3 linked regions of the Homo sapiens genome follow. The protein of the gene in region 1 interacts with the protein of each later gene in a pairwise test. Each region holds a gene or a part of one and is shown on either strand. Other genes may lie near its edges.

Region 1 (7,036 bases):
TTCTGCCTCTGCCTCCCGAGTAGCTGTGATTAAGGCACCTGCCACCACACCTGGCTAATTTTTTGTATTTTTAGTAGAGACAGGGTTTCACCATGTTGGCCAGGCTGGTCTTGAACTATTGACCTCAGGTGATCTGCCCGCCTCAGCCTCACAAAGTGCTGGGATTACAAATGTGAGCCACCGCGCCTGGCCTTTTTTTTTTTTTTTTGAGACAGAGTTTCACTCTTGTTGCCCAGGCTGGAGTGCAATGGCATGATCTCGGCTCAGTGCAACCTCCACCTCCTGGGTACAAGCGATTTTCCTGCCTCAACCTCCTGAGTGGCTGGGATTACAGGTGCCTGCCACCATGCCCAGCTAATTTTTTGTATTTTTAGTAGAAACGGGTTTTCCCCATATTGGCCAGGCTGGTCTCAAACTCTTGGCCTCAGGTGATCCGCCCGCTTTGGCGGCCTTGGCTTCCCAAAGTGCTGGGATTACAGGCGTGAGCCACCGCGCCCAGCCAACACCTGGCTAATTTTGTAGAGACAGGGTCTCACTATGTTACCCAGGCTGGTCTTGAACTCCTGGGCTCAAGCGATCCTTCTGCTTCAACCTCCCAAATTGTTAAAGTAATTACAGGCATGAGGCACTGCACCTGGCCCAGAGATTACTTTTTATGGCTAAAAAATAACAATATATTATTACACTCAGCATTACTATTAATATATTATTACAGGCCGGGCGTGGTGGCTCACGCCTGTAATCCCAGCACTTTGGGAGGCCAAGGCGGGCAGATCACAAGGTCAAGAGATCGAGACCATCCTGGCCAACATGGTGAAACCCCATCTCTATTAAAAGTATAAAAATTAGCTGGGCGTGGTGGTGGGCGCCTGTAGTCCCAGCTACTCGGGAGGCTGAGGCAGGATAATCACTTGAACCCAGGAGGCAGAGGTTGCAGTGAGCTGAGATCACGCCACTGCACTCCAGCCTGGGTGACAAAGCGAGACGCTGTCTCAAAAAAAAATAAAAAAAATAAAAAATATGTATATATATTATTACATATTATTACATCTGTAGAATACTTTGTTTACCAAGCACTCATATCCATCATCAAATCTGAGCTTCATGTAAGCCATGAGGTAAATTCACAGGAGGTAATAGATGTCATTACCCTCATTTAAAAATCAGGAAAAGATGCTCAAAAAGACTAAATGATTTGTCCATTTTTGCAAAGGTATTAAATGACAAAGCAGGGATAAAATTCCAAGACCCCAGTATCCTTTCCACTAAACTACATTGACTACTGGCACCTAAGTTCACAAATCCCAAAGGCTCTCCAGTTTACATAAAAGACTATGTATATATATTTTTTCTTTCTTTTTTGAGACACACTCTTGCTGTGTCACCCAGGCTGGAGTATACTGGTGCGATCTTGGCTCACTGCGACCTCCGCCTTCCGGGTTCAAGCAATTCTCGTGCCTCAGCCTCCTGAGTAGCTGGGACTACAGGTGTGCACCATTACACCTGGCTAATTTTTGGTATTTTTAGTAGAGATGGCGTTTCTCCATGTTGCCCAGGCTGGTCTCAAACTCCTGAGCTCAGGCAATCCACCCAACTTGGCCTCCCAAAATGTTGGGATTACAGGCATGAGCCACTGCACCCGGCCGAAAGACATTATATTTCTGATAGAACATTCAAGGTACGTAATAGGAGCTGTGAGGAGGGAAAAACAAATTCCAATTCTATTTATATTTCATTAATCACTCTAGGGATAGTGAGTAGGGAGAAAAACAACTTTACCTCTGATAGTCTTCCAAAGCCATTCCCTCCTTGAAAGTGGGATAGAAAGGAACAGAGTAAGGACACTTCTTATGTAGATGAGCAAGAATGAGGTCCCCCACTCTGGGGTGGAGCTCCCAGATCCCGGATGCCACAACTGCAATGGGGAATGCTGCTTCATGGTGAGAGGCCACTTCCTCCTCGCCTTGTTTCTGAGAACATAGAGGTGGGTACAATTTTAACTTAATACCAGAAAAAGGCTGAAATCTTGTACACCAGCCTCTGCTTCCCATACCTCTAGCAACAAGGTTTCTCACCACAAATTTCTCTGCCAGTTTGTATTGAACAAAGTCCAGCCCCTGTGGGTTAAGTGTGACAGACACAGAGCGCCCACCAGATTGAACAGGTTTTCCAGAGAGCAGGCTGTGGATCTTGTCAAAGATCTCCTTCAGTTTTGAGCCTGAGCATGATAGAGAGAAATTAAAAGATATAACCACAGATCAATCTCTTTTTCTTTTCCTTTTTTTTTTTTTTTTTTTTTTTTTGAGACAGTATCACTCTACTGCCCAGGCTGGAGTGCAGTGGCACAATCTTGGCTCACTGCAACCTCCGTCTCCCGAGTTGAAGCAATTCTCTGCCTCAGCCTCCTGAGTAGCTGGGATCACAGACGCCCGCCACCACACTGGGCTAAGTTTTGTATTTTTTTTTTTTTGTAGAGATGGGATTTCACCATGTTGGCCAGGCTGGTCTCTAACTGCTGACCTCAAGTGATCCGCCCGCTTTGGCCTCCCAAAGTGCTGGGATTACAGGCGTGAGCCACCATGCCCAGCCTGTTTCATCATTGTAATTACAAAGCATCTACAAAAACCCAGCTGTGCTGCCCTACAGAAATGAAGGGATAAACAGTATCCCTTACTGTACACATAAAATGAAGGGATAAACAGTATAGAAAGAGGTGTTACATTTTGTTACAGACCCCATGGACTGTGGTTGGTATCTCTAGAGGAGTTAGTCACATCTCTAGGAAAAACCTTCTAAAGGATCTAACCAGCTCATGATGATATGCCCCCTTCTCAGGACTTGCCTTCTTCCGTCCTCAGAGACACAGAAGTGGATTCGTAACAGCTATATTTGTACCAAAGATTTTGTGTGCTCCACCCCCACACTAGCTACAGTTAGATTAGAGGCAGTCAAGCTGAGCCAGTCAGTCAACTAAGAGTCACTTCCTTGAGGTAGCTGGCCCTGTGTCACATACACTCACAAGCAGTGGGGGCTGCGTACCTGCCATGAAGACCAAAGAACGGCAATCTATAAAATAAGAATGGAGATGTAGAGAGGACAGATGAGATGAGAGAGGAAAAAAGAACTAAAGTTTCTAGCTCCTGAGACCTCACCTCATTCCTGCCACTGGGTTCTGTAGGATATTTCTTTATCTTTCCAATAAATGCTTTTTTTTTTTTGCTTAAGCAGATCTGGGCCAGCACTTTGGGAGGCCAAGGCAGGCAGATCACTTGTGGTCAGGAGTTCGAGACCAGCCTGACCAACATGGTGATACCTCGTCTCTACTAAAAATGCAAAAATTAGCCAGGTGTGGTGGCGGGTGCCTGTAATCCCAGCTACTCGGGGAGGCTGAGGCAGGAGAATCGTTTGAACCCAGGAAGCGCAGGTTACAGTGAGCCGAGATTGTGCCACTGCACTCCAGCCTGGGTGACAAAGCAAGACTCCATCTCCTCCCTAAAAAAAAAAAAAAAAAAAAAAAAAAAGCAAAGCAGATCTGAATTACTTTCCATTACCTGAAGTCCTGAAGTCAATGTTTTAATTAATACAGCATCTCCAGTTGAGAAATACCCTGTCAAGTTCCTAATCACTTCAAGAAATGTCACAAAAGTTTCAGAAATATCCTGTCATTCAGTTCTCTTATCAAAAAAAAAAAAAGCCAACCATGTGGACCCCACTGGCTGAATGCCCCATCTAGCATCTAGCCTCTCTCCATACCTCTCTAGGTAGGAGGAAAGTTAGTTAGCTTCCAACCCTAGACTGACGTGGCCTCCCCATGCCACAGCAACATCATGTCCTTATTTAAGATTTCTTCTAATTCTAACCACTCATGGACATCCATCTTTTTTTTTTTTTTTTTTTTTGAGCTGGAGTCTCACTCTGTCACCCAGGCTAGAGTGCAGTGGTTCGATGTCACCTCACTGCAACCTCTGCCTTCCGGGTTCAAGTGATTCTTCCACCTCAGCCTCCCAAGTAGCTGGGACTACAGGTGTGTGCCACCACGCCCGGCTAATTTTTGTATTTTTAGTAGACACGGGGTTTCACCATGTTGGCCAGCCTGATCTCAAACTCCTGACCTCAAGTGATCTGTCTGCCTCATCCTCTCAAAATGCTGGGATTACAGGTGTGAGCCACCACACCCGGCGACATCCACTTTTTTTTTTTTTTTTGAGATGAAGTCTCACTCTGTCACCCAGGCTGGAGTACAATGGCACGATCTTGGCTTACTGCAACCTCCGCTCCTGGGTTGAAGTGATTTTCCTGCCTCAGCCTCCCGAGTAGCTGGGATTACAGGCGCCTGCCACCACATCTGGCTAATATTTGTATTTTAGTAGAGATGGGGTTTCACCACATTGGCCAGGCTGGTCTTGAACTCCTGACCTCCTATGATTCACCCACCTCAGCCGCCTAAAGTGCTGGGACTACAAGTGTGAGCCACTGGGCCCAGCTGACATCCACCTTTTTTTTTTTTTTTTTTTTTGAGATGGAGTTTTGCTCTTTTTGCCCAGACTGGAGTGCAATGGCGTGATCTCAGATCACCGCAACTTCTGCCTCCTGGGTTCAAGAGATCCTCCTGCCTCAGCCTCCTGAGTAGCTGGGATTACAGGCATGCACCACCATGCCCAGCTAATTTTGTATTTTTAGTAGACACAGGGTTTCTCCATATTGGTCAGGCTGATCTCGAACTCCTGACCTTGTGATCCACCCGCCTCAGCCTCCCAAAGTGCTGGGATTACAGGATTACAGGCGTGAGCCACTGTGCCCGGCCCACCTTTTTTTTTTTTTTGAGACGGAATCTCGCTCTTTCACCCAGGACGGAGTGCAGTGGTGCTATCTCGGCGCACTGCAAGCTCCGCCTCCCGGGTTCATGCCATTTTCCTGCCTCAGCCTCCGGAGTAGCTAGGACTACAGGTGCCTGCCACCACGCCCAGCTAATTTTTTGTATTTTTAGTAGAGACAGGGTTTCACCGTGTTAGCCAGGATGGTCTCGATCTCCTGACCTGGTGACCCGCCAGGCTCGGCCTCCCAAAGTGCTGGGATTACAGGCGTGAACCACCGCGCCCGGCCCACCTTTTTAAAAAAGAGAAGAATTAGGTGATCCTTCCCTCCTATTCATTAAACGCTTACTGAGCACTAACTAGAGCATGTTCTGTGTCTGGCTGGACTACAAGATCTTAAAGGACTTAAAGTCTTGATGGAGACAAAGGGAGAGTCAGGAAATGTGTAGAAAAATTAAAAAAGGCAAAGATATAGACTAATTCGATGTGGTGAGTGAAAGAGAGGCAGCAGTCATAAAGATGACTCCCAGGTTTCCAGCTAAGATTACTGAGTAGATAATGGTGCTACTGATTACTCAAGAGAAAACAGCAGACAAAGAGGGCTAAGGAAGATGATGGGTTTGGATTTGAACACATTAAACTTGAGGCAGCTAAGAGACATATAGGCAGAGATGTCCCTCAGGTAGCTGAAGCTGGAGAATCTGAAGCTCAGAAGAAAGGAATAAACCAGAGGTAGGTTTGGGAGTCATCAGCATTCAGGTAATGTTTGAAGCCCTGTAAGTAGAGAGAACGAAAAGAACTGCAGGATAAGAGTAGATCCCAGCCGGGCACAGTGGCTCATGCCTGTAATCCCAGCACTTTGGGAGGCCGAGGTGGGCAGATCATGAGGTCAGAAGATCGAGACCATCCTGGCTAACACGTTGAAATCCTGGCTAACACGTTGAAACCTGGTCTCTACTAAAAATACAAAAAATTAGCCGGGCGTGGTGGCAGGCGCCTGCAGTCCCAGCTACTCGGGAGGCTGAGGCAGGAGAATGGCGTGAACCCGGGAGGTGGAGCTTGCACTGAGCCGATATAGTGCCACTGCACTCCAGCCTGGGCGAAAGAGCGAGACTCTCAAAAAAAAAAAAGAGTAGATCCCTAGGAATCACCTACAATTAGAGTGGGGTAGAAGACTAAGAAACCCACAAAGGGGAGAGAGAGAGAGGGAGAGAGGGAGAGAGAGAGAGGAAAGGGTAGTGAGGGAGGGAGGAGAAGAACCTGGAAAGTAATGGCACCATGGAGGCCAAAGGAGTAGAGTTGCACAGAGAAAGCAGCAACAGTGCCGAACAGAAACCTCAGGAAGATCAGCAAACACTTAGAAGACATAGGATCAAGGGAGACTCATGTTAGGATGTGAGGGGCTCACATATATTTACAGGCTGAGAGAGAGGAGCCTATAAAAAGGAGTAATCACAGAAAACAGGAAAGGCAATAAACGATGAGGCAGTCTGACAGGAGACAGGAAGGAAAGGGAACAAGGGCAGAGGTGGAAGGGTAAGCCCAGCAGCAAGGACGCCTCATCCAGTGACACAGGAGACTAAGAGGTAAATGTCACTGTGCAGTGGTGGAGGGGCTCTGAGGAGCTCACACTGGATGTCTCCATTTTCCTGATGAAGGAGGTACTGACCCTGTCTGCAGTCAACAGAGGGGAACTGGGAACGGCCATCGAGGTGTGGAGTGGCTGTCCAGTCAACCTCTCTTGCTTTGCTGTTGCTATCAAAGGACACAGCACTTTAAATTCCAAAAAGTGATATGTTATTTATTTATTTATACCTTGCCCTGTTCCAGAAAGAATTTCAGGCAGCAAAGTCATATGTAAGTTTTGCTGGACTGCCTATCAAGGGCAGGAACTGAAATTTTCCTATGCTTTCCAGGCAATGAGAAGTGAGTCGGGGAACGGAACCCACGATGCGTCAGAGGAGTGTTCCAGTTGCACACACACTCCCCAGCCACCTGGCAGCTCAGTCTATAATCTGGAGGCTTCCACATCTACAGCTCCATACAAATGAACCTCTGGTTCTAAAGAAGTTTCTTCCTTGTCTGGTTCTCACTTTCTAAACCTCAGTCTCTGGAGAGAAAAGGAGTCCTGGAGGATGAACAAGGCGAGCTTGGAGTAATTTGGAAAAGCTAATGTTGTAGGACAGAAGCAAAGCCTGCAAGTCACAGCCTAGGTTCCCTGA
Region 2 (7,036 bases), on another chromosome or scaffold:
GTTTATTGCATGTACATTTACCTCAGTAAAGCTGTGGGTTTTTTTAAGAGCTAAATTCATGGTGGTGAGAATGTAATAGGCATTCACTAAGTATTTTTGACTAAATTAATAATTAAATTAGTCATGAATGGAATTATTTCATTCTTCAGTGATGGGTCATATCAGGAAATCCAGATGCATAAGGGGTCGAATTTTACCTCCTTGATTTTGAAACTTTACGTCAACTTCTAAAAGTCCAACTTTAATAGTAAATCCCAGTTCCTGGCACACACTTTGAAGGCCCACTGTCCCTCAGTTTACCAGTTTTTCATATTTACCCTGAGAATGAAGTCAGTGACTGGACTTAGTCCTGTGTCTGCAACTCATATATTTCTCTTGAGCATGGCCTTGTGTTCTCATTTATGTTATCAGACATGCAATTTAGTCATTAAAATAGACATTTTGATATAGTGGCAGAGGATGTGTTTAAGATTTGAGAAATTTACTAAAAAATGAAATCCCTTTTGTCGTTTCCAGAAACATCAGACTCTGGGCCTCTATTGACAAACCGTATCCACTTGTAAGTTGAATGTAACAATAGGCGGTGCACGTGAGCCAGCATGGACTTTTCTCATTGGCTGTTAGCATGAGGAGCTTGTCTGGCATCCTTGTATTTGATCCTGATGTCTTACTGTCTTTTCTCCCAGGTATGGCAGCAGCCAAACTTCTGCATGACTCTGGACTGAATGTGGTTGTTCTGGAAGCCCGGGACCGTGTGGGAGGCAGGACTTACACTCTTAGGGTAAGGCATTAAGAATCCGGAGGACAAATGTGGGACTGAAGCTGAGTTTGGGGTTTCATTTTTGTCTTTTTCCCCAAAAGTCTTCAATTTCATTTGACTCTAAGAGGGTGAAAATAACTCTGAAACATTCTTCACAGCCTCTCTCCCAGTTTGCCTTCCTTTCAATTCTTCTGTTCCTTTTTGTCTTTTCATCTCATGATATTTGGCCTCATAGAGTTAGGATTGAGTAAGAGGGAAATGGACAGATATGTGTGTGCCTCTGTGTGTGTGTGTGTGTGTGTGTGTGTGTGTGTGTGTGTGTGTGTGTGTGTGAGACAGAGAGAGAAATAGGAAGAAAAATAACATAATTATATGTACTTTCCACTCCTAACTTCGATGCTTCCTTCACACCAACACAATCATTCTAATCATACAAACTAAACTTTTTTGGAGAGACTTTCTCCCATTTTTAAATTTATTTTTTAAATTTTATTTTAACAAATCATAATTGTATTACATTTATGGAGTATAATGTGATGTTTTCACCATATGTATACAATGTGGAGTGATTAAATCAAGCTAAATTAACATATTCAGCACCTCACTTTCTTGACATTTTTTGTGGTGATACATTTGAAATTTACTCTGTTATTTTGAAATGCACAATACATTATTATTACTACAGTTACTGTGCAATGGATTTCAAAACTTATTCTTCCTGTCTAGCTAAAATTTTGTACCCTTCCTGTCTAGCTAAAATTTTGTACTCCTCATTCCCTCAGTTCTCACCCCCCAGCCCCTGATAATATTCATTTTGCTCTCTACTTCTATGAATTCAACGTGTTTTAGATTCCACTTATAAGTCTTTCTGTGCCTGGCTTATTTCACTTAGCATAATGTCCTCCAAATTCATCTATGTTGTCCCAAATGACATTTCTTTATTTTTAAAGGCTGAATAGTATTTCATTGTGTGTATATACCAAGTCTTCCTCATCCATTTATCCACTGATGGACACTTAGGGTGATTTCATATCATGGCTACTGTAGATAATGCTGCAATGAACATGGGTGTGCAGATATCTCTTTGACATATTGACTTCAATTCTTTTGGATATATTCCCAAAAATGGGATTGCTGAATTATGCGGTAGTTCTATTTTTAGTTTTCCATTTTTAGTTTTCTGAGGAACCTCCATACTGTTTTCTGTAATAGCTGTACTGATTTACATTCCCACCAATAGTGTACAAGGGTTCCCTTTTCTCTTCATCCTTGACAACACTGATTATTTTTCCTCTTTTTGATAAAAGCCATTTTAACAGGTGTGAGGTGATATCTCATTTTGGTTTTAATTTGGATTTCCCTAATGATTAGTGGTGCTGAACTTTTTCCATGAACCTGTTGGCCATTTGCATGTCTTCTTTTGAGAAGTGTCTGTTCAGTTCCTTTGCCCATTCTTTAAAAATCTGGTTATTTGTCTCTTGCTATTGAGTTGTTTGAGTTTCTTATATAATTTGGATATTAACCTCTTATCAGATGTACGGCTTGCAAATATGTAAAGAAAACTATCATTTTATTAATTGTTCTTTTGCTGTGCAGGAGCTTTGTAGTTTGATGCAATTCCATTTGTCTGTTTTTGCTTTTTTTCCTGATCTTTCAGGGCCATATCCAAAAAATCATTTCCCTGACTAGTGTCATGGAGCTTTCCCCTTGTTTTCTTCAAGTAATTTTGCCGTTTCAGGTCTCGTGTTTAAGTCTTTAATCTATTTAGAGTTGATTATTTGTATATGGTGTTTGCATATGGTATAAGATAAGGGACTACTTTTATTCTTCTGCATGTGGATAGTCCGTTTTTCCTGCACCATTTATTGAATAGACTGTCCTTTCCCCATTGTGTGTTCTTGGAATCTTCATCAAAACTCAATTGATTGTAAATGTGTGGGTTTATTTTTGAGCTTTCTATCCTGTTCTATTGGTTGGTGAGTCTGTTTTTATGTCAGTACCATACTGTTTTGATTAAAATTGCTTCATAATATATTTTGAAGTTGGGTAGTATAACGCCTTCACCTTTGTTCTTTTTGTACAAGATTGTTTTGGCTAGTTGTAGTCTTCTGTAGTTCCATATGAATTTAAGGATTGTTTTTTCTGTTTCTGTGAAAAATAACATTGGCATTTTGATGGGGATTGCACTGAATCTATGGATCACTTTGGGTAGTATGGACATTTTACATTATTAATTCTCCCAATCCATGAACATGGATGTGTTTTTATTTATTCACATAAACTAAACTTTTACCTGCCTAATTTTCCTTCTTGTTTTTGCTTCAGCTTTTATTTTTTTAAAAGAATTATTTACCAATTTATAAATACCCTTATTTTAATTGCTGGTTAATTGTTTCAATTCTGACACTGTTGCCTAAAATTAATGATTTTCTATTTAAACACAGAGTCAAGCAAAGCAAGTTTCTCTGCAAGGAAATGCCCTACTTCCATACATTCAAGATCTGAATAATAGATATAGAAGCTACAGAGTATTTTCATTTCCAGAGAGATAAGACATATAAAATTCTGACTCACAGCTCTTCTTTTGGAAGGATTCATCAATGATATATATCTGACATTTTGTACTCATTCTTTTTTTTAAATTATACTTTAAGTTCTGGGATACATGTGCAGGGGTGGGATCTGCTGAGCTAGATCACTTGGCTCCCTGGCTTCAGCCCCCTTTCCAGGGGAGTGAACGGTTCTGTCCCACTGGTGTTCCAGGCACCACTTGGATATGAAAAAAAAAAAAAAAAAACTCCTGCAGCTAGCTCGGTGTCTGCCCAAATGGCCGCCCAGTTTTGTGCTTGAAACCCAGGGCCCTGGTGGCATAGGACCGAGGGAATCTCCTGGTCTGCGGGTTGTGAAGACCATGAGAAAAGCAAAGTATCTGGGCCAGAATGCACTGTTCCTCATGGCACAGTCCCTCACAGCTTCCCTTGGCTAGGGAAGGGAGTTCCCTAACCCCTTGCACTTCCCAGGTAAGGCGACACCCCACCCTGCTTAGGCTCATCCTCTATGGGCTGCACTCACAGTCTAACCAGTCCCAGTGAGATGAACTGGGTACCTCAGTTGGAAACGCAGAAATCACCTGCCTTCTGTGTTGATCTCACTGGGAACTGCAGACTGGAGCTGTTCCTATTCGACCATCTTGCCAGCCCTCTGTACTCATTCTTTACTTTGAGTCATCTCCTTTATAATTGAATTTGTCCTCAGCAAATATCTACTGAGTACCTACTATGAATCAGGCACAGTAATCCCCCCAAAATGGCCTTGCTCCACAGACTTTACAGTCTCTCAGGGGGACAATGACTGTTGTAATTGCCTAATTATAGCTTATCAAGGAAAATGCTACAGTGAGGGTGGGTGACAGCTTGGAGTGGTGCCATAGGAGGCATAAGAGGGTACCTTACCAGTCTTGAGAGCCAGAGACTCAGAGAAGCCTGAAAGCCTTATCTGTTATTGACTGTGACATACACCGCCTGACCTAGTTATTTGTGATTTCACACAAGCCTTCAAACTTGATCTAACCCTTGTTGTCTACTGGCCATTGTTTTTGCCATTATGTGTTCCTCAAATATCTCTTTTTACCTTTGTCGTATGGCAAAATCTTCACATACTTCCAGGATCTCATCCCTTCCTACTCCAATCAAAAGCTACTTGCCTTTCTTCTGTGTTAATACCACTTACCTGTTCCACACAAGGACAATTATTATATGTTGCTTTACAAGGTTTTGCCTGTGTACATCTTATCTCTCCCAGTTCTTGAAATCTTCATATTCCTTGAAAAATACAGCATATAAGAGTGCCTTTTACGTAAAGAAGCTGGTTTAGTACAATTAGGTGCTGAATTTTTAAAAACATCCTTCTTTCATTTATTTGAGAAAATTTATTGGACAACTGCTATAGGAGTTTGGAATACTTTAGTGAGTAAAACAAAGATGCCTTGTGAAAATTGCATTTTTGAAGGGTAAGTGAGTGGAAAGCTAGACAAAAAATACGCAAATAAACAAAAACAGAAGAGAAGGACCATTTCTAGTGTTTCTAACTGGTAGGAACCTGGTTTTTCTTAGACATACTCAGAAATAGGAAACTTTTCTACTAATTTTTTGTTCAAAGTTCGCCCCTCAGTCATTGGAAATGAAACCAATTCAAAACTACGTAAATATACTATTAAACATAAAAGCAATTTCAAAGTCCAAATTATGACCAAATATTCCCTAGTGCTATTTTCAAATGTCTGGATTAACAAATCACATAAGAAGTGATCGTTTTCTTTCTTGCTTTTTCTCTAGCATTAGGCTCCTCAACATTCACCTGAAGTACTGAGTAAAGAGATTCGTCAATAATTCACAGCTCACAAATTCAAAGCACTAAAAACCAAGCCATGTTATGGTATATTGTAAATGATGAGGTTTAGAAGCTCTTGCCTATTCAGAGTTCAATCAATTTTGCTTTAAAGATTGATTTAATAACTAAGTCATGTGAATGAAGTAGAGTTGATAACAAAATCTAGTTTTTCGTGGATATACCCTTAAGCTGTATCTATAACTTGTGAAATGTCGATTTGCTTATTTCAGGACTGTCTTTTGTTATTTTATACATTTTTTACAAATTTTTTTTAATTTTTTCCTATGGGAAAACAGAACCAAAAGGTTAAATATGTGGACCTTGGAGGATCCTATGTTGGACCAACCCAGAATCGTATCTTGAGATTAGCCAAGGAGCTAGGATTGGAGACCTACAAAGTGAATGAGGTTGAGCGTCTGATCCACCATGTAAAGGTAAGATCAGGCCAGACTTTGAAGGATTTGAAAACTTCTCTATGATGTTTCCTTACACAAATTCCAGATCATTCTCTCAGAGAATCTTCTATATCTCTGGATGATGCAAATGTATTTTATAATGGTATTTCAGCCACTCTGAGATTCATTCACTGTTATCAAAGGTGAATTAGGTGGGAATTCTACCTATTTAGGAAGGTTATTGATGAAGTGGTATCTTCCATGTGGTAAAATGTTTAACAAAACCCATAAAGAAAAAACATTTGTGCTTTATTTATTAAATATCTATTTAAATACCGGGAAGTCTTTTATGTTATATAAAAACCTGTGCAAAGTTTTTAAAATGCTGCCCTAGACTGCACATTGTAAAGAGTATTTGCAATATGCCTAATGGAATATTCTTACATTTTATCATTGTGGCCTATATATCAGCTAAAGTTATTCTTCTTTGGAGATTGACATCAAAGTGGTTCAAGTCCCAGATCCCGTCTTTTGCAAGGAAGCTTCATTGTTCTCCCCAAGATTTCTGTGAATTTACTGAGTTTCTCATTCCTGTGATCATTTGTGGCTCATAGTTCTGGCTTCCATGATACCTATGTTCATTCACATCTCACGGCCTGTGACTCTTTTCTTCTCTTTGCTTATGCCAACCTGGGTTCACACTCACCTCTTTGTCCTGATTTTTCTCAGACCGCCACAAGCATATGTGAAAAGCAAACGTCACTGAAGTTTGCTTGGGTTTGGTGGGCGGGGGAAGGCTCTTAAATTTGCAGAAATACAAACAGATTAGAACTGAATGTTGGACATTCATTCTAATAACCTCTTAGATCAAAGCATCCCCTGAGGATTTCTCACTGGTCACATTTCTCTGCAGATTCCAGTCTCCCACCATGCTGCTGGTCCTCAGACTCTCTTCACATCTCCCTGCTCCTCTGTTTTTCCAGCATCCTCATCTTGGTCCACAAAGTCACTCATGTTCTCTGACAATCAGACAGTCACCTAATCTGGGCCCCATCCAGGAGTCCCATGGAAGAACTGGCGGAGGTTTTCAATTTCAGTCTTTCCTCTCTCATCTTCACTTGCTCCTGTGGGTGGAAGTAAGCAGCACAGGAACTTATTCCTCACTGGTAGAAAACATCCCCTTAGAAGACAGAAGAAACTAGCAACGGTCAATTTTGATTTATATAACAATTTTGACATCCTCATATTATTTGTGAGTGATAATATCGAAACAAATAACTGACCATAAATCATGAAACATTTAATAAAATGGGAACTAAGCAGTTACTTAATTTGGTATAATGTGGGTAAAAGTTTTCCTTAATTTATAAATAAATGTTTTGGTTGACCTTCAAATTTTATTTTATATTGGCCGGGCACAGTGGCTCACGCCTGTAATCCCTGCACTTTGGGAGGCTGAGGCGGGCGGATCACCTGAGGTCAGGAGTTCCAG
Region 3 (6,248 bases), on another chromosome or scaffold:
GATTTTGTCTTGAAGACTGATTGTTAATGATGTACTACAGTGAGGATCTCATAAAAGTTTTTATACTTTTTACATGTTAATACCAGACTTAATTAAAATACTTAAGGTCTTTTATTATATTTAGTTTCAGGTAAACCTATAGTGGCAGTGTGGCATAGAAAGAGGAATGGACTGGGAATTGAGGAAGCTGATTTCTAATGTTGGTTCTATCATTAATTGACTATTTATTCTTAGGCAGACTTTGTGGTTTTCAGACTTGGATCAGTGTAATAAGTGGGTTTGGACTAGATGATTGTTAAAGAGTCCTTCCAGCTCAAAATTGTATGAGTCTAAGTCCTACCTAGAAAATAAGTTTATAGGTTAGGTAATATAACATATAAAAATATATAATGAAAATTCCTATTAATTCTAGCTGGCAATCCTTTTATTCAAGTTGAAAGCACTTGTAACTTTACATACAGATAAAATAAATTATATAGAAACAGAAATTCCAAATTAAATAACAAAAGTACAAGGATAAAAAGCATTAGCTAAAATTTTTTTAATGGTAAATACTACCTTTATTTAAAAAAGTTATACATGCTAGAAAAAAGCATAAATGATATATGTAAACAATTGTTTACTCAATACTTTTTTTCCTTGAAAAAGGTGCAAATGATCTTTAAATGTAAACACAAAGTTGCCAAACATTTTTGTAGTTGGGGAAAGGGAGAAGGAGGTTATTCCTTTTAAATGCAGTTAGTCTTATTCAAAGATTTTTCTTGCAAAATATATTGAAAAAAATTTGTCTATGAATACAATGAGGAAAAAAAACTTTAACCATTGAAATTATTTTTTCCTTAAAAATTTTTAACTTTTTACCAGAAAGTGCAATTTGAGAGAAGTAGTAACAATGACCTTATAGAATGAAGATAATGATACATTGTTTGTATAAAAGAACCAAGATATTAATAAAATGCCTCAATTGATTTTACACTCTTTAATGTGTGCTATTACATTAACTGAATAATTCATTCCCTTGGAGGCTGTTATTAAAGGTAAGCCTCAGCTTAACCAGGCCTGAGCATCAAGAATAAATTGCATAACAGAATTCACTGCTGGGAGAAGACATTTCTCCCTGCTGGTCCTTGGTAGCAATAAGGAAACAGGAAGGACAGTTGCTTTAGTCAGTAACATTTTTGAGCAAAAACTGTTGCAGAGCTGCATGTGATTCTCTTGGATTCTCAAGACAGCATATGAGACTTATATATTGTTTTTATAAGAGGCACTGAGCAGAGCTCTAGATCTAGCAGAAACTCTATGAGAATATTATGAAAAAAAGACTAAATAAACAAGTTCATATAGAAAGAAACAAGACATAAAATTACACTGATGAAAACTGTAGTGTCTGAGTCCTGGTTTTTATTGATTTAGTATCCCTTCTGAATTGTACTATTTAAAATGAGATGTTGCCTTTTCTTGTTTTTTTGTTTTTTTTTTTTAAGATTTTCAAGTCTTCTGGTGGTTAGTGCGAGAATAATGGGTAGCTAATACATTTTGCATACCTACCTTTATTCCTGGTAATCCTTGTTAGTGGAATCATGTGGATGGAGTGTCTAGAAATAATAGCCAAATCATATATAGCCCTTCTGCCCTTATTAAATAGTATTTTCAAACCTAAATGAATACCTTACAAACAAAGTAAGTTTTGCTGCTTGGAATTTTTTCTTCTTTTCTTTTTTTGTGGGAGGAAGGATAAGTTCAAAACGAAAACAACAAAAAACCATGATAAATTAAAACCAAAAATAAATATTCTTCTGCACAGAGTTGAAAATTATTGTGCATCTTGCAGGTGAAGTACTTTCATTGGATTGTATTTCCATTTGTTGAGGCACCGGCAAATAATAAAATTTGTTCTAATGTTTTCTCAAGCTGTACAAAGCTCCAAGGTCAAAGCTCCCCAGAATACAGAGGAATATATACAAGACTGTCTTCTCTGTGTTCACCAAATATGGGATTCACAATGTGTCATTTTAATAACTCCTACGCCACCCCCTAGCCGACGGTAATTCATCCCGCCATATAACCTGCAAAGAAAGAAACATAATCATATTTTCTAACTGGAAAATATGTTACAACTAAGATGTTATTAACTACGACTAAGATGTTATTAACACGTTTCTATGTTTTATATTACAACTAATATTTTCAGCTTCACACTAATATTGTCTTCATTCTAAAGATTAGAAGCTGCAATTGAGCACTGTTGAGTAGCAGGACTGTTTCAGAGATTGACTGACATGCTCTCACTCATAGGAGGCTGTGTGAAGAATAAGAGAGCATCATATTCACGTTTGGCATCAGAACTTTACAACTGTATACCTCACTGACTTCTAACGGTTACACAGAATTATATATTCTACATTTTCAAAATTTTGCCCCTGGCTATATTATTGTCCCACCTATGTTTTCCCTTTGCCTAAAATTCTTCAATTATTTATTTTTATCCCTTTGTCTTATATGTACTCTGTAAGCCTCTTCAAGTCCTTTATAGAACAAAACCAGATTTGAGTAAAGTCAGCATCTAGTTTGTGACAAGATCATCTTCAAAATTAAGGACTTTCCATGGAGAAGAATACTAGACCCTTATCAGCTATGAGGTAGAGTTGGTTTTTAAGTCTTGGATATGTAACTGCAAATATTTAGTTATTAATCTTTCAACAGATGATCCTCAATAATTTCATGACTATTACTTTGTCATCTATTACTAATTCTATTTAGTGACAGTTACTAAGAAACAAGTCCTCAGATAAGATTATAGTGATTAAGTGACAGTAAATTTGGCTGTCTTCAGAAATTATGCTTAATCAAAATTCCTAGTAAAAATAGAAAGCTGTATATGGAAGAAAATATCCTGCCAGTGAGAGGCCCAAAGCTGCCATTACCTATCCTTTACCGTATTTAGGTTTTGCTAAAATGCTACCTTTCCAATGAGGCCTTCCCTGAACACCTTTAAAAACAGATTCCCCTCCCTGTACTCCCTAGCCCCCTCCCCTGCTTTGATATTTGCCACAGCACTTCCATCTACTGGTATGGTACTGTTTGTCTCCCTCAATACAATTGGTTAGCTCCAGCAGGGCAAGGAACTTTTTTGTTGTTTTGTTTTGTTTTGAGACGGAGTCTTGCTCTTCCACTCAGGCTAGAGTGCAGTGGTGTGATCTCGGCTCACTGCAACCTCCACCTTCTGGGTTCAAGAGATTCTCATGCCTCAGCCTCCCTAGTAGCTGGGATTACAGGCGTGCGCTTGGCAGGAATTTTTGTTGTTGTTGTTCAGTTTTGTATCCCCAGGGCTCGGAGCACTTAGTAAATCTTTTTTTTTTTTTGAGACGGAGTCTTGCTCTGTCACCCAGGCTGCAGTGCAATGGCCCAATCTCTGCTCACTGCAACCTCTGACCCCAGGTTCAAGTGATTCTCCTGCCTCAGCCTCCCAAGTAGCTGGGATTACAGGTGCCCACCCCAATGCCTGGCTAGTTTTTGTATTTTTAGTAGAGACGAGGTTTCATCATGTTGGCCAGGCTGGTCTCGAACTCCTGACCTCAGGTGATCCGCCCACCTTGGTCTCCCAAAGTGCTGAGATTACAGGCATGAGCCACCGTGCCTGGCCATCAATAAATCTTTACTTAATGAACAGGACTGTAAAAATGTGATGTAGGAGCAAAACGTACACGCTGTTATTAGCCTGACTTTAGTTTTGTGACCACTGAGTCATATGGAGCTGTGAGACATATGTAGGATCCAAAGCATGTCACTTAAATCTCTGTGAGAGTTGTGGCTTTCCTAGAGATAGACTATTAGAATACAGTAAGAAAGGACTACAAGACTGCCTCTTTTAGAATAGTAACAATAAAACAGAGCTCAGCTTATCCTTCATGGTCATAAGAAAAATTTCCCAGAATGTCTGCTGCCTCAGCTCACATGTCCAGCCTGATATTTCTGGTTGATGTGCAACCTTAACCACTGAGATGGTAACCCTAAACTTGCTTAGGCAAGTAAGCCCATTTTATTGAGAAGGAAACCCCAAATTGCTTGGAAGGCAAAACTGTTTTCTTAGAAGACTAGTATTTAGAATTAAGTACAGATATGCCATACATCAAACCCATAGTATTGTTATTTTTAAAGTTTGAGAATAAACTATGTGTTTTGCATTTTAAGTTCCTGTAGTGTTTAAGAGAATTTGGCTTTTTAGGGCATCTATAAGATTACTCTTGTGATTCAAGTATAAAATATGATTGAGTAAAGATTTAGACTTAATTATTTTAAGTTTAAAGGTTTAAGAGAATTTTGCTAAGTTTGTAAAGGTTCTTGAATATTTAAAATAAATGCAAAAGTCACCTAATTTATGTGAAATTATAAAAACTACTTAACTACTTAAGAAAGCTTTATTAGACAATTGAGGATTTAAAAGCAAAGTAAAATTAAACCTAGAAATGAAGTTTAAGTTAAGCTCTCTTAAATAAGATGTAGCCTCCTCCCTAAAAGTTAAAATGGCTTTAAAAATGAAATATTATTTTTCAAATATTAATTTTTCAAAAGTAATTGCAATTTGTTTCTCCTAGGCATAGGTTTCCCACAAGAACACCAAAAAATGGCATGGACAGATTTGGAGCCAAAGACCTAGGTTCTAATTCTAACTCTGTCACTAACTCACTTAGGCAGGTCATTTTATTTCTCGGTGCTTTTGTTTCCTCAGCTGAACATGATGGGACTAGGAAGATTTTTTTTCCCTATTTTACCCATCTCTAATTATAAAACTGGACAGTTACTGAAAAGGAGAATTTTGTAATATATCAGCCACTTTAGAGCAATCAAGTCAAAATGAGCCATAAATATGTGTAACTTCAGCCCTCTTCAAAGTACTCCAATGTACTGACCATCCCAGTTCTGATGGTCATAGGCTATTTCAAGCCCATGATTTCCAAATCAGTAGTGAGGTGATTTGCTACACAGCTTAAAAGTTACCTCCATGTATTGGCATCAGGATCAAAAACTTCTATGGTCTTCAAGTATGTTGTGCCATCAAAACCTCCTACTGCCATGAGCTGTCCATTGACCACTGCCAGGCCAACCTACAAAACCAAAATACAGTAAGCTGCTGAAGAAACTAGACAATCGTAAGGAAATTATAGACTGGTTTCTAGATAAATCTATTTACAAAAGATAATTCTTTATGGCCTTACATTCTGGTTTACTGAAACACAGGGAAAATGTAACAACAAAAGTCTATCAAATTATGGGAACTATAAAATTATATATTCAATTAGAATATTCACACAGAATCCAAAACATGTATTTCTTAAATTTTAGAAAAACTGTTCACTAGAAGTGAGCAAACAACCTCCAAACTGCTCTCACTTCCTCTGGTATTTGCCTGCTCTAATCTTTCTAATTGCTAGTAAAATTCTCTTTTAAAAATACAAATCTAGGCCAGGCATGGTACCTCATGCCTGTAATCCCAGCACTTTGGGAAGGCCCAGGTGGGAGCATCACTTGAAGCCTGGAGTTCAAGACCAGCTTGGGCAACACAGTGAGACCCCTATCTCTACAAAAATAAAGTAAAACAGAAAAATATAAATCTAATCATATTGTCACTTTCCTCTAAAAACTTTCTCACTTTGGGAGGCTGAGGTCGGTGGATCGCTTGAGCCCAGGAGTTCGAGACAGGCCTGGGCAACACAGTGAGACCCTGTCTTTACAAAAAATACAAAAATTAGCTGGGTGTGGTGGGGCATACCTGTAGTCCCGGCTACTTGGAAGGCTGAGGCAGGAGGACTGCTTGAGCCTGAAAGGTCGAGGTTGCAGTGAGCTGAGATTGTGTACACTGCACTCCAGCCTGGGCAGCAGAGTGGGACCCTCTCAAAAAAATCTCCTAAAACCAAAACAACTTTCTAAGCCTCCCTACTATTTAAGGGTAAGTTTTAAAGTCCTTATTATGTTACTCAGGCCCTCCAGAAATCTATCTTAGCCCACTATTTAAGCCTCACCTCTTATAGTTTCCCTTTACTCCTAACTAATGAATCCTATTGCTGCAGTAAAACTGGATTAACTGCTAGTCCCTGAAGATAACATACATTTTTCACACCTCCACACTTTTGCACATGTTCCCTGGCTGGTGTTTTCTTCTCCCCTCCCCTCCCCCACCTCCCTCCCTCCTCCCTCCTCTCTCTCTCTCCCTCTCCCTCTTTCCCTCTCTCTCTCTCACTCACAGGGTC

What was found. The genes of interacting proteins can lie anywhere in the genome.
Region 2: the proteins of GLE1 (region 1) and MAOB interact in binary tests that used the Homo sapiens proteins (3 or more experiments, as listed by UniProt).
Region 3: the proteins of GLE1 (region 1) and KLHL20 interact in binary tests that used the Homo sapiens proteins (3 or more experiments, as listed by UniProt).

What each region holds. Positions count from the first base shown.
Region 1 is NC_000009.12:128,528,695-128,535,730, reverse strand, and holds part of GLE1 (mRNA export factor GLE1), read right to left. Parts: exon of another isoform or gene 6,731-7,036; intron 3,067-6,730; coding exon of another isoform or gene 3,040-3,066; intron 2,219-3,039; coding exon 2,076-2,218; intron 1,971-2,075; coding exon 1,780-1,970; intron 1-1,779. UniProt on the Homo sapiens protein: Required for the export of mRNAs containing poly(A) tails from the nucleus into the cytoplasm. May be involved in the terminal step of the mRNA transport through the nuclear pore complex (NPC).
Region 2 is NC_000023.11:43,837,415-43,844,450, reverse strand, and holds part of MAOB (amine oxidase [flavin-containing] B), read left to right. Parts: intron 1-534; exon of another isoform or gene 535-559; intron 560-686; coding exon 687-781; intron 782-5,445; coding exon 5,446-5,583; intron 5,584-7,036.
Region 3 is NC_000001.11:173,780,981-173,787,228, reverse strand, and holds the end of KLHL20 (kelch-like protein 20), read right to left. Parts: intron 5,106-6,248; coding exon 4,999-5,105; intron 2,067-4,998; coding exon 1,982-2,066; 3' UTR 537-1,981; downstream 1-536. UniProt on the Homo sapiens protein: Substrate-specific adapter of a BCR (BTB-CUL3-RBX1) E3 ubiquitin-protein ligase complex involved in interferon response and anterograde Golgi to endosome transport.